Regions from separate parts of the Homo sapiens genome. Here region 1 is linked to region 2. Evidence: fine-mapped expression QTL. Tissue or cell type: stomach. Region 2 holds a variant in brackets; the other region holds the start of a gene. All regions are shown on one strand. Distances are between the middles of the regions.

Region 1 (8,119 bases), 27 kb after region 2:
ACGCACCGCACACACCACACACACTCAATACACACAGGCAGGCATAGAAACATCACACACTGGCCGGGCGCGGTGGCTCACGCCTGTCATCCTAGCACTTTGGGAAGCCGAGGCAGACGGATCATGAGGTCAGGAGTTCGAGACCAGCCTGGCCAACATGGTGAAACCCCAACTCTACCAAAAATACAAAAAAAAAAAAATTAGCCAAGCATGGTGGCGCACGCCTGTAGTCCCAGCTACTCGGGAAGATGAGGCAGGGGAATTGCTTAAACCCAGTAGGCGGAGGTTGCAGTGAGCCGAGATCGCGCCACTGCAATTCAGCCTGAGCGACAGGCTGAGACTCCTTCTCGGGTGGCGGGGCGGGGGACGGGAATCACACACGGGCACAGGAACACGGACACACTTGGGATCAGGAACACACAGACGTGCATGCGCACACACCACACAGACCAGGCACGGGCGTCTCATGACCCCTCACCATTAACGGAATGTCCTCACCCTTCTTGACCAGCACAGGGGACAGCACATTGGCCACAAGGACGCCCAGAGGGTTCGCTGGGTGGGCGGATGCACAAAGTGTCAGCTCGGCTGTGGCCTGGCTTCATCGCCAGCCCACAGGCAGAACCTTCCGGGCCCCAGCTCCTCCACCCTGGCCAGAGAGCCTGGGGAGCCGAGCGTCTGTGTGGACCCTGAGGTGAGCCCAGGCAGGCGGCCTCCCTCCCCGGAACTCACACATGGTGGCGAGCATGTTGGCCGTGGCTCGCTGGTGCTCTGGGAACCACAAGGCAGCCAGCTTGGCTGGAGAGAAGATGACCAGGCTCTGGGCAAGGGCACAGAGGCTCTGGCCACCCATGAGGAAGGCAAATGGGTTTTGGGTCCCAACAACCATGCAGGGCACCATGCGTAGCACACTCCCGGCAAAGTTCAGCCACGCACCCAGGATGGTCTGCGAGGAGGGGGTCGGGGACCGGGTCAGGAACGCTGCCACCAGCCCAAGTGCCTGCCCCGTCCCCCGAGCACCTGGACCTCCCACTGCCGCCACCTCGACGGCTCTGCCGGGGTCCCCAGCTGTTGGGACTGGTGGGCCCCGGTCTGGGGAGGCCTTGACTCTCCTACCCAAATGCGGGGGCCCCTGCACTGTCCCGGAGCGGGCCATGGTGTGGGGTCTGACTCACCGCCGCACGGAGCCCGACGGAGTCCAGGATCCAGATGGCCGCCACGCCAAATGGGGTGGATACCACGAGGTAGACCAGTGACAGCCAGTTGATCTGCTCCATGGACAGGACCAAGTCCTCAGCAATGACGTCAGCCACAGGTGCAAAGCTGAGCCACAGCTGCAGGGGTCAGGCGGGAGTCAGCGCAGGGCCACAGACCCCGGACCTACCTGCTGTGGCCCCAGCCAGCCCGAGGGGGTCAGAGTGCCAGCAGCCCCGTGAGGCCGAGGGGACACAGCGAGCTGGACACGGGGCCTTCCTGCCCAAGGAGAGCGCCACCCTGCCTCCCCCGAGGGCGGGCACCCAGCGCAGGGTCAGAGAGCATGCCCTGACCGGGGACCAGCCTGGGGGGCAGACACTGAGGCCAAGGACCTGGCCAGAGCCCACAGGACCACGAGCCCTGCCCAGACCAGACCTGGCGCTCCAAGGCAGGGAAAGGTGGGCGTGACGGGGTCTCAGCTAGAACCTCTGGGACTGCAGGCCAGCCCCACCCAAGGCCAGCCTGACCTTCCCTCCTGCAGGGCCCAGGTGTTTGGGCAGAATGTTGCCAGAGCGGGCACCATTCCCCAGCCACAGGCATTATCAAGTACTAGAGCTCTTCACCCCACGGACGTCCAGCACACAGCACAAGTGCACGCTGCGGCCGAGGGGAAGGCCTCCTAGGAGAGGTGAGACTGGCTCATCCCTGAGGGAGGCCAAAGTGGAGCGGGTCACCGGGGCTCACTCCGGGAGGCAGGAGGCCGTGTCACTCAAGGTCAACTTCCATGAGTCGACTGAGCTCCAGGCCACACCCTCGGACACAGCAGCCAGACCCAGGCTCCGCCCGGACAAGGTCTGACTCAGCCCACGGGACAGGACAGGGAGCTTGGGCAACAGCCGCCCTGTCTTCCTTTTTCTGCAGGACGGGGCCAGGCACAGAACGAGCTCCCCAGGCCCAGCTGGTGCCTGCCTGGCCGAGCCCGGGAGAGAAAGCCCACCCTGCGGAGCCGAGCCCGCCGCTCCAGCCTCAGCCCTGTCCTGGTTCCTCGGGGGCCTGAGTGGGGCCCACAGCTGACTCACTGAGAAGAGATGCGTCTGAAGCGTGCGGGGCAACGTGGGAGGACGATCTGTCTGACTCCCTTCCTCATCTCCCAGCCTCGACCCTGCCTGCGCTCGCCCCCTTGGGTCCTTTGAGTCTCATCCAGAGCACTGGGCTGCCTTCCGGGGTGGGTGTTGACCCAAGCTCTGCTCCGCCTGGCCCTCATGCTGCTGGTTGGAACCCGGGATCCCTGGTCACTGGCTGCAGATGAGTAACCTCCAGCCTCAAGGGCACTTGGCTGGAGTGAACATGGTGCTTACGGCTCACTGTGGTGACCCAGGCAGAGACCATGACGACTCTTGGTGTCAGGGTGAGATTTCTGTGTGCTCCATGATGACTCGTGGATATTAATAAAACAGTGAAGAACTGCAGCAGGAGGCCCTTGACTGTCCAAGGAACGCCCCACACCTACGACACCCACTGACTCTTGGACCATGAAACCAGCCCTGCACCCTCAGACACTCCACCCAAAGCCAGTTATGGCTTCCCCAGTGCCTGGACATGGTGGGCCAGGACGCCAAGCCACAGCAGTGAGTTACGGCTCGTGCCAGCATTGTGGGCAGCAGGCAGCCCCTGGGCCCATCCAGCAGATCCCGGGCCTGTCTCGGCCAGAGGCTGGCCCTCCATACCCAGCCAGCAAAGGAGGAGGGGAGAGGCCCCGGGGTCCACCTGGAAGAGCCCTGACCCAGGCCTGAGAGTGACTCCTGCCCCTGCCCCCGAGCTTCCTGACCATCCCCGTGACCTGGCGCCTCCCTGAGCTGTGGGTCCTGCTGCCAACTCTAGCTGTTCATTGCACGTTGGCCAGATACTGCCTGACCAGTTCCTGAGGCTCCGGGGGATGGCTGATGAGGGCACACAGGGCGGGAAAGGCTGCAGCGTGCAACACCTGAAGGGGGTGGGGGCAGGACGGAACCCAGCCCAGCCCAGGAGCCGCCCCTCACTCAGAGTCAGGTGGAGGGGAGGGCGGCTCCAAGCGCGCCTCTGCTGTGTGCCTGCTGTCCTGGGGCTGGGAGGCGTGGAAGGAGAGAGGGCCAACGCAGGGCCACCTGTATGTGACTGGCTGGGGAAGAGGGACCCAGGCTGGAGCCACTGAAGGCTGGGAAGGGCTGGGACTCCGTGACTGGCAGATCCCCCGGGGCACCCAGCCCTGCTCTGTGCCCTGGGCCCAGCCACCTCCAGGACAGACAGTGCCCCCAGTGCCCGCAATCCCTAGCCACCTCCAGAAGGCACCCCCCGCCCCCAGCCAGCACCTGGCACCTCGGGCTGTGGCCACAGGAAAACAAAACCCGGCTGGTCCGAGGGACTGAGGGTCCCGGAGCCACCTGTCCCCGCCCCTGCCCCTACCGTGGCGTTGGAGCAGTTGAGCAGGCTGATCGCGAGCAGGAACACCCAGCGGCGCGCGTAGGTGCGGTGGCCCCGCTGCGCGCACAGGGCCCGGGGCTCGGCCAACCCCGTCTCGGCCTCCGTCGGCCCCGCCATCGTCGGCGGCCTCCACGGGTCTCCGCCGGTCCCGCCGGCCGCCCGGGCTTAAGGACCTTCCCGCGTGGGCCGGGACCGCCTGCGGGCGGAGGTGGGGCCGGGCCGGGCCGGGCCACGGGGGGCCAGTTCCGCCCCAAGGACTACGGAGGAGGGTCCCGCCCCGTCCCAGTTAAAGGAGACCCAAAAAAGCGGGGGAAGGGCGGGCAAAGGTGAAGTTGGACCCTCCTCCTTCGGCCTCAGGCTGGAAGTCCCTGCCACAAAAACCGAATGTCCCTTCCGGGAAGGGCCCCGGTCACAGCCTGTGTGCTTCTCAGCAGGAAAGGCGGCCTGGAAGTCACTCTGCCCAGCAGAAGCTCTGCACTTCCTGAAGGGGGCTGTGGACCCCAAGTTCCTGAGGTTCAAGCCAGCCACAGGGAGGGGCCAGAGGCCAGCCTGGAAGAAGAGGCTGGGCTGGCTTTGCGCAGAGCCTCAAATCAGACCAGTCCCTCTACAGCCCCTGCGGGAAGCAGGCATGGGGTAGGAGGGCGAGGGGCTGCAGGCCAAGGCTGGAGGGAAGGCCAGAAAGGCCTGTGGGCCCCACCCTGGGGTAGGCAGTCCGCCACACACGCACCGGATTGTTACCTGCATTTTACAATGGAGGACACGGCTCTCAGAGGAGTAGGCACAGGTTTCTGTTTGTTTAGGATGGAGAGGCCTGTGTGTTGGAAGGCAGAGGAGGGAGTTTCGGCTTAGTCTTTTCTGCAAGAACCTGCTGATCCCACAACTGTGCCTGGCCCACCCTGGGGGAACCCAAGAGGCTCCAGGCCCTGTTGCTGAGGCCAGTATAGGGGTGGGGTGGAGGCTGGCCTGGTCAGACGTGCAAACAGGATTTCCCCCAAACAGGGAGGCTCTCTTGACCCTTGAAACCATCCCCGTTTCCTGAACAGTATTATTCGTGGTTTTTGTCTTAAACATTCATCTCCTTTGCCAGGGCCTGTCCATTTTCCACACCTGAGTCTGAACAGGCTAATGATGAGGCCCCAGCTTTCACTGTGCAGTCTTCTGCAGGGATTGTGTGTGTGTCTCAGATAGAGCTCTCCACTTTGGGATTTTTTTTTTTTTGTAGAGTCTCATCCAGTAACAAAGAGAAAATGGAGCTCACCCGGGGTGTCCTGAGATGGGTGGGCCCCAAGGGGGTTCCATTCTCTGAGACGTGTGATGGAGCCCTGTGGTCCTCACTCTCTTTATCTCCTCTGCCTTCCCCACCGTCTAGCCTCCCCCCTCATCTTTGTTCCCCATTCCCCCACCAGTTCCTTCTGTTCTCCTTCTCCTCACCTCTTGCTCGCCCTGCCCTGAGGACCCAGCCCCCTCACAACCTTCCTCCATAGTCCAGTGCCAATGTTGGCCTAGGGCCTTCAACATCCCCTAACCCCACCTGGCAGAGGGGGAGTTGCAGTGCAGGCTTCCCTGTTGAGGGACCTCACTATTGTGGAGCACTGCCTCTGACAGGTGGTGTCTGAGCCTGTCACCATGAAATGGGGCAGCCACAGTAGCTACCTCCATCGTTCAGTCTCTGTTGAGCGTGCATTGTCGAGGGGTGTCACCATGAAACGGGGCAGCCACTGTAGCTACCTCCATTGTTCAGTCTCTGTTGAGCGTGCATTGTTGAGGGGCTCCTCCTCCCTACATGTCGGAACTCTTGGGTTGAGCAGGTGAGCTCAGCAACATTGCAGAATGCAAGATCAGCACACAACAATCGCTTGCATTGATGTATACCAACAAGAAACATGAAAACCAAAGTTAAAGACATTCATAATTACTCCAAGGAAAATTAAATACTTTGGTATAAACTTAGCAAACCATCTACAGAACTTGCATGCTAAAAATTACAAACCATGGGCCGGGTGCGGTGGCTCACGCCTGTAATCCCAGCACTTTGGGAGGCCAAGGCAGGTGGATCACAAGGTCAGGAGTTCAAGACCAGCCTGGCCAACATGGTGAAACCCAGTCTCTAGTAAAAATACAAAAATTAGCCAGGTGTGGTGACATGCACCTGTAGTCCCAGCTATTTGGGAGGCTGAGGTAAGAGAATCTCGAACCCGGGAAGCAGAGGTTGCAGTGAGCTGAGATCATGCCACTGCACTCCAGCCTGGGCAACAGAGTGAGACTCTGTCTCAAAAAAAAAAAAAAAAAATTACAAACCATGGCTGGGCGAGGTAGCTCACATCTATAATCCCAGCACTTTGGGAGGCCGAGGTGGGTGGATTACCTGAGGTCGGGAGTTCAAGACCAGCCTGGCCAATATGGTGAAACCGTCTTCACTAAAAATGCAACAGATTAGCTGGGCATGGTGGTGCATGCCTGTAATCCCAGCTACTCAGGAGGCTATATAAGGTGGGAATTGATTAAACCCGGGAGGCAGAGGTTGCAGTGAGCTAAGATCGTGCCACTGCACTCCAACCTGGGCAACAGAGGGAGACTCTGTCACAAAAAAAAAACAAAAATAAAACAAGGAAAAAAAAACAAGCTGTGCCCCAACCACCTTGAGCACGTGCCATCAGGACTGCCTGAGGCTATGTCACAGGTGTGTCCTTAACCTTGGCAAAATAAACTTTCTAAATGGGCTGGGCACGGTGGCTCACGCCTGTAATCCCAGCACTTTGGGAGGCCAAGGCAGGCAGATCACTTGAGGTCAGGAGTTTGAGACCAGCCTGGCCAAAATGATGAAACCCTGTCTCTACTAAAAATACAAAAATTAGCCGGGCGTGGCGGCGGGCACCTGTAGTCCCAGCTACTCGGGAGGCTGAGGCAGGAGAATGGTGTGAACCCAGGAGGCAGAGCTTGCAGTGAGCCGAGATTGCGTCACTGCACTCCAGCCTGGGCAACAGAGCGAGACTCCGTCTCAAAAAAAAAAAAAATTTAATTTTTTAAAAAATCGCATAGTATAAGTCCACTTATTTGGAAACAATGACTTTTTCCACTCTTGCATCTAATGAAACAGTTTTGTTTACATTTCTCCACAAGCACCTTCGGCACACTCACCTAAGCTGCCCGAGTTTTGGATCCGGGTACAGCACCATCCTGGGATCCTCACCCCAAGCCCAGAATTGCCTGTGTACGTTTACATGGTGACCTCCAGACAAAGGCACCCAGCGTCTTGCTTTCCAAAAGGATCTCTGGTCAGGTTTGGTAGCTCACGCCTGTCATCCCAGCACTTTGAGAGGCCAAGGCGGGCAAATTACCTGAGGTCAGGAGTTCGAGACCATCCTGGCCAACATGGTGAAACCCCGTCTCTACTAAAAATACAGAAAAAATTAGCTGGGCATGGTCTTGGGTGCCTGTAGTCCCAGCTACTCGGAAGGCTGAGGCAGGAGAATCGCTTGAACCAGGGAGGTGGAGGTTGCAGTGACCTGAGATGGCACCACTGCACTCCAGCCTGGGCGACAGAGCGAGACGCCGTCTCAAAAGAAAAAAAAAGAGAAAAGAAAAGGATCTTCAAAAGCTTATTTAAATAATCCTTAACATACACAGTTATGGCTAAATTTGCATTTCAATGCTGTTATCTCTCTTCTTTTAACCCAACATAGACTTCTGTCAGCATCCCAGACTAGCATTCGTTAATTGCGGGCTAATGTGTCTTTCCTAAACAGTATCTTGTTCAAAATCAAGCCACTGGAAACAGTTGCTCTGCCAAGGCTGAAGGAGGAGGCAGGCCGCCTTTTCCAGCCTGTCAGGGAGGAAACCTCACCTGCTGCGCTGAGACGGCCTGCCTGTCCTGCTGCTCCTCTGAGTGGTTTTTATCTGCTCCTCCCAGAGAACCTCAGCAATGTGAGGGCAGGAGCCGTCTGCCCACCCCGAAGCCCTGGGGGAAGGACTGCCCGGCACAGCTCCAGGGTAAAAACAGAAACCGTGGGACGCATGGCCTCTCTGCTGTGGGTCCCTCCACCGCCCCGGGCCTGCCAGACAGGTTCTTCCGCGGGGTGCCCACTTCCTGTGTGGAGCCTCCTTGACCCGTCTGGTTCCATGTGCCCCATCTCCACGCGCCTGCATGCCATCACTCCCACCCATCTCTGCGCCTCCCTCCAGGGCCCGGCTGCTGATAGCCCATGCGGGACAGCGCCCGTGGCCGGGACTGAGTCGGCACACCCAGACCCGGGTGCACAGGCTGCCCCAGAGTGACAACGTGAATGCATCCTCAAGCATGTGGAAGGCCCATCCTTTTACAGAGATGTGCACGGGAACATGAGCCTGTCTATTTACTTAGACAAGGGAGGGCCCTGGCCACGTCCAGGCCACAGAGGGAACATGAGCCTGTCTATTTACTTAGATGAGGGAGGGCTCTGGCCATGTCCAGGCCACATGCCACTCC
Region 2 (5,000 bases):
ACATGTGTGCACATGTGGGTGTGTGTGTGCACATGTGGGTATGTGTGTGCGTGTGTGCATTGTATGAATGTGCACATGTGTACACATGTGTGTGCACATGTGTGCCCACGAGTATGTGTGTGCATGTGTGTGCACATGGGCGTTTGTGTGTGTGTGCCCGTGTGTGCACCCATGTGTGTGTGCTCACATGTGCACAGGGGGTGTGTATTGTGTGTGCATGTGTGTGCACATGGATATATATAGACACATGCTTGTGTGTGTCTCCTAGAGACGATTGCTGGATCAATGTGGGGATTATGTGGTGTCCCCATCACCCTGTGTCTGCCTATGCAATTTAGCCAGAATCTCCCGGGGCCACGAGCCTTGTGAGTAGGCCTTGGACTGAGCATGGGAATGTGCCTGGTGGGTCTGAAAGTCCACTGTTGTGTGTGTTACCTCATGGCTGTGTGTGTGAGCCTACATGCGTGAGTCTGCACGTGTGTGCCTGCATGTCTGTGGGTGTGCCTGGGTGCTCATGTGTGTGCCTGTGTGTCCACACCGGTGCCTTTGTATTCATGGGAGTGGCCGTGTATCCAGGTGTGCCTGTGTCACGTGTGTCTGTATCCGTGTGTGTGTGTGTTTCTTTTCATGTGCACACCTTTGTGTTTTCTTGTCTCAACAACATCACCCTGTCCACCCAACTGGGCAAGTTCTTCACTGTTGGGCCACAGGGTACAAGAGGGGAGAGTGAGGCTGAGCCAGGGGGGCGTGTGAGCAGCCTGGGATACAGGCTGGAGCGCCAGGAATGACACATCTCCTCAGAGATGCCTGAGGTGTCTGAGGCTTGGCAGGGGATCTGGAGAGAAGAAAGGATGAGAAGCAAGTGGGGGCTGTGGCAGGCCAACCTCCCTCAGCCCACAATCCCTCCCACAGAAGGAGGAGCTGCCAGGGCCCACCACATTTGACATCTACGAATTCCACTTCTCTGACCTGGAGTGCACCGAACTGGACCTGGTCAAATGTGGCATCCAGATGTACTACGAGCTGGGCGTGGTCCGAAAGTTCCAGATCCCCCAGGAGGTGGGAGACACCGCAGGGCGCATAGTCAGGTCCCTGAGGCCGCCCAGGACATGGGGGTGGGGATGTGATCAGGGCCTCAGGTGCCCCAGAAGGTGAGGGGGATGGGATTGGGGGTTCCAGATCCCACAGGAAGTTTAGAGGGCCGACATGTTCATCACAGAACAGGTAAAATGCACACGGGAAGTAAGCATAAAACAAATAATTGGATGGCTGGGTGGATGGCTGGATTGATGGATGGCTGGATGGGTGAAAAGCAGGGAGGAAGGAGGGAGGTTAGGAAGGAAGGAAGGCCAACAGGCAAGCAGAAAGAAACAAAGGAAGAATAAATGAATGGATGGGTGGATGCCAATGGTAGTTGGATAGTTGGATAAATGGATGGGTGGGTGGGCCAATGGTAGTTGGATGGTTGGATAAATGGATGGATGGGTGAGTGGGCCAATGGTAGTTAGATGGTTGGATAAGTGAATGGATAGGTGGATGGATGGAGAAGTGGGTGGATGAGTGATAGATGAGTAGGTGGGTCAATTAATGAATTAATAGATGGGTCAATGAATGGGTGAATGGATGGGTGGACAGCAGATGGATGGTGAATGGATAGATTTAAAGTTTTATTATTAGGAGTTCCAAGCAATTTGATCATTAGGCACATCATCTGGCAATAACAGGGGATTTGGTGTGGGGTGCTGAGGAGATAGAAGCATCCCATCACCTAAACAGAAAGCACAAAGTGGCCCCCCTGGTTTGGCCACAGCAGCACTCCTCGGAGACCCCCTGGGGAGGCGGGATGGCTTTCCCAGCCCTCGTCCACAGCTCTGTGCCCTCCCTGGGTTCTCCTGCCCTGCCCTGCTTCCAACATCTCAAGGGGCTTCCCACAGCCCTAGGAAGAGAATCCTCTTTTCTCATGCCCCTCTGAGAACAGGTGCAGCAGGCCAGCATTTTCAAAAGAAGTTTTACTAAATACTAAGGGAAAACACTCAAGAAAAAATGTATAGAAAATATTTGCAGAATAAAAAATATTTCCAAATAATTTTCTGACCCTAAAAATCACAATGGCCGCAGGAAGAGCCTCCTGGCGATGTCCGCAGGGCAAGAGAGACCAGCATTCTCTTGCCCTGCGGACATCGGTTCTCCCACCCCAGCCTGCAGCCCACACATTCTGCTCATTCAAATGTCCATGCCTAAAACCAACATCTTAAAATATGCTGCATCCCCAGGGGTCCTCCTCCCAGCTTGAGGCCAGGCAGTCGGATGGAGGCTGGGCGGCCCCTGAAGGCTGGGGCTGTTCTCAGCTCCTGCCCTACCTGGCTCCACCCCATAGGTGCCAATGTGGCAGCCCCTACCCAGGAAGGCCAGCAGAGGCCAGTGGGAAACGCAGGGATGGGGAAGATCGGGAAGTCCAGGAGACGGTGTGGGGATGATGGCACGGAGCAGGGCTTCCACTGTGAAGTCAGCCACAGGTGCCGCTCTGGCGGGACTTA[C/G]ACGCTTGCCGCCGGAGCCCTGTGTCCTCTCGGCTCCCCCAGGTCCTGGTGCGGTTCCTGTTCTCCATCAGCAAAGGGTACCGGAGAATCACCTACCACAACTGGCGCCACGGCTTCAACGTGGCCCAGACGATGTTCACGCTGCTCATGGTACGTGGCTGCCAGAATCACCAGGGTTGTGCAGGCCCTCCTGGTACCAAGGGCAGCACTCAAGCACCCCGAGGGATGAGATGGGGGTCCTCCCAGGGCAGAAGGATGGAGGAGGGCAACGCCCTCTGACACCGTGCACCGCGCACCCCAGCCCTGCGGTGGTCGGAGGTCCAACCTCCAACCCGACGCCTAGGTCATCCCAACCCCTCACCACTCCCCACCCTGCTGGAGCCAGGACCGGTGAGCAAGGTGGCCCTGTCTCTACAGACCGGCAAACTGAAGAGCTACTACACGGACCTGGAGGCCTTCGCCATGGTGACAGCCGGCCTGTGCCATGACATCGACCACCGCGGCACCAACAACCTGTACCAGATGAAGTAGGCACCTCAGGGCGGGCATGTGAATTAGCCCTAAATCAACTCCACGCCCTTGGCGTGAATTAGGCTTCGCATAGCAGGCTATGTAGAAAGTGGAGTCCACGGCCAGGCCCCGTACTCCAGCACTGTGGGAGGCCAAGGCGAGGGGATTGCTTGAGCCCAGGAGTTCGAGACCAGCCTGGGCAACATGGCAAGAGCTCTCCTCTACAAAAACTTAAAAAAAAAAAAAAAAAAAAAAGCTGTGTATGGTGGCGCACACCTGTGGTCCCAGCTACTTAGGAGGCTGAGGTGGGAGGATCACTTGAGCCCAGGAGGTCAAGGCTGTATTGAGCCATGATTGCACCACTGCACTCCAGAGTGGGTGACAGAGGCAGACCCTGTCTCAAAAAAAAGAAAGTGGGGCCCATCTGGGGGGGCTGCAGAGCGCAGGGTGGGCCAAGGGCAGGTCCCACGGGCCTCACCTCCACCACCTGTGTAACAGGTCCCAGAACCCCTTGGCTAAGCTCCACGGCTCCTCGATTTTGGAGCGGCACCACCTGGAGTTTGGGAAGTTCCTGCTCTCGGAGGAGGTTGGTATACTCACCCTCGGTTTCTGCTGTGGGCGCTGGGGACGCAGCGTCCGCAGGACGGCAGGGCCGTATCCTGCGGAGCAGGGTTCTGATGCAGCGGGTGAGCACTGGGTGTGTGAGCACTGGGGGAGGGCGGCAGAGAAGGCGGAGGGCCGAGGCTGAGGGCAGGTGCATCGGAGGCCCTGGGAAAACGCTTGTGGGGAAGACAACTGGAAAGGGCCCCTCATGGGGTGGGGTGGAAGCCGAAGGGGAAGCGGCCCGGGACCCACCAGCGGGGGAATGAAGGGCAGCCGAGCCCTGAGCGGCCCCCAAGGACCTGGACACTCAGTGGACCCCTCCCTGCGCTCCCCGGTGGTGACCTCTGAGGCCATCTGCGTCCCAAGCCGACGATGGAGCCGCTGGTGGAGAGCTGGGCACCCTGAGGAGGGCCCTGAGCAGCAGGCGGATTAGGGGTCCCGCCCACCGAGGGCCCGAGGGCGGGGGCGTGAGAGGCACAGGCAGCCGAGGCGGAAGGGGCGGGGTCCCCGGGCACCCTGAGAGGTGGCCGCAGGGCGCCTGACGCGCTGGGCATAACCTCCGCAGACCCTGAACATCTACCAGAACCTGAACCGGCGGCAGCACGAGCACGTGATCCACCTGATGGACATCGCCATCATCGCCACGGACCTGGCCCTGTACTTCAAGTGCGCGCCTTCCGGGAGGGGGCGCCTCGCGGGGCGGGCGGGTAGCCTGGGACCCCCGGCAGACACGGGGGCGCAGCGGCGGCACAGCCCGGGGGACGCAGCCCCGGATTCCGTCCCTGCCCGCCGGCCCCGCGCACCCCGGATGGGGCCTCGCTCGGGCTCCGCGCCTCCCTGCAGACGGGCGCTTGGGGCGGGGTCTCCACACTTGCTCCCACCTGCACCTCCCTTGTTCCCTGGGTTCAGGAAGAGAGCGATGTTTCAGAAGATCGTGGATGAGTCCAAGAACTACCAGGACAAGAAGAGCTGGGTGGAGTACCTGTCCCTGGAGACGACCCGGAAGGAGATCGTCATGTGAGCGCGGGCGGAGGGGGCACGAGGGGTCCTTCCCTCGCAGGGACCGGGCCCACTCACCAGCTGGTTAACCCTGCAGCCCTCCCCAGACGCTCTGGAGCAGGAAGAGCCCGTCGCGGCAGCTTGTCGAGGGCTGTGAAACAAATGCGCCGTCCTTATTTCCCCCCAGCTCTCAGGGAGATGGTGCAGAGCTGGGGAGCACACAGGCCCTGCATTGGTCTGTAGCCCTTGGCAGTAACTTACTTCATTTTGACCTTCCACTTTTTCACCTGTAAAATGGTGATTCACAACCAGCCCCTCCCCAGGCTGGTCCCAGGGACCCAGTGAGAAAAT

Alleles and levels. Positions count from the first base shown, and alleles are read on the strand shown. Sizes are in standard deviations (SD) of each study's normalised expression.
With allele G in place of C in region 2, the expression in stomach of the gene that starts at base 3,795 in region 1 is higher (small effect, 0.31 SD a copy in GTEx).

Evidence for each region. PIP is the estimated chance that this variant, and not a neighbour inherited with it, causes the effect.
Region 1: it holds the start of SLC49A3, and the variant in region 2 is fine-mapped to the expression of SLC49A3 in stomach (GTEx, PIP above 0.99).

The regions. Positions count from the first base shown.
Region 1 is chr4:685,357-693,475 of GRCh38, forward strand. SLC49A3 (solute carrier family 49 member 3) reads right to left here and starts at 3,795. Exons shown (of 10, transcript NM_032219.4): 1 at 3,637-3,795; 2 at 1,176-1,334; 3 at 733-946; 4 at 479-555. The coding sequence starts at 3,771. LOC124900643 (a long non-coding RNA gene) reads left to right here and starts at 1,329. Exons shown (of 2, transcript XR_007057985.1): 1 at 1,329-1,882; 2 at 2,116-2,663. RefSeq lists enhancers at 1-8, 1,213-2,161, 3,110-4,058, 4,059-5,006, 4,782-4,831 and 2 more and silencers at 3,582-3,751, 3,782-3,841.
Region 2 is chr4:659,555-664,554 of GRCh38, forward strand. It overlaps PDE6B (phosphodiesterase 6B), which reads left to right. Exons shown (of 22, transcript NM_000283.4): 12 at 913-1,059; 13 at 2,580-2,687; 14 at 2,955-3,064; 15 at 3,546-3,633; 16 at 4,216-4,316; 17 at 4,560-4,667. Among named protein-coding and RNA genes, the nearest start is that of PDE6B-AS1, 6.9 kb to the left of the region's middle. RefSeq lists an enhancer at 3,819-4,411 and a silencer at 4,006-4,475. The variant C/G (reference allele first, on the strand shown) is at 2,538.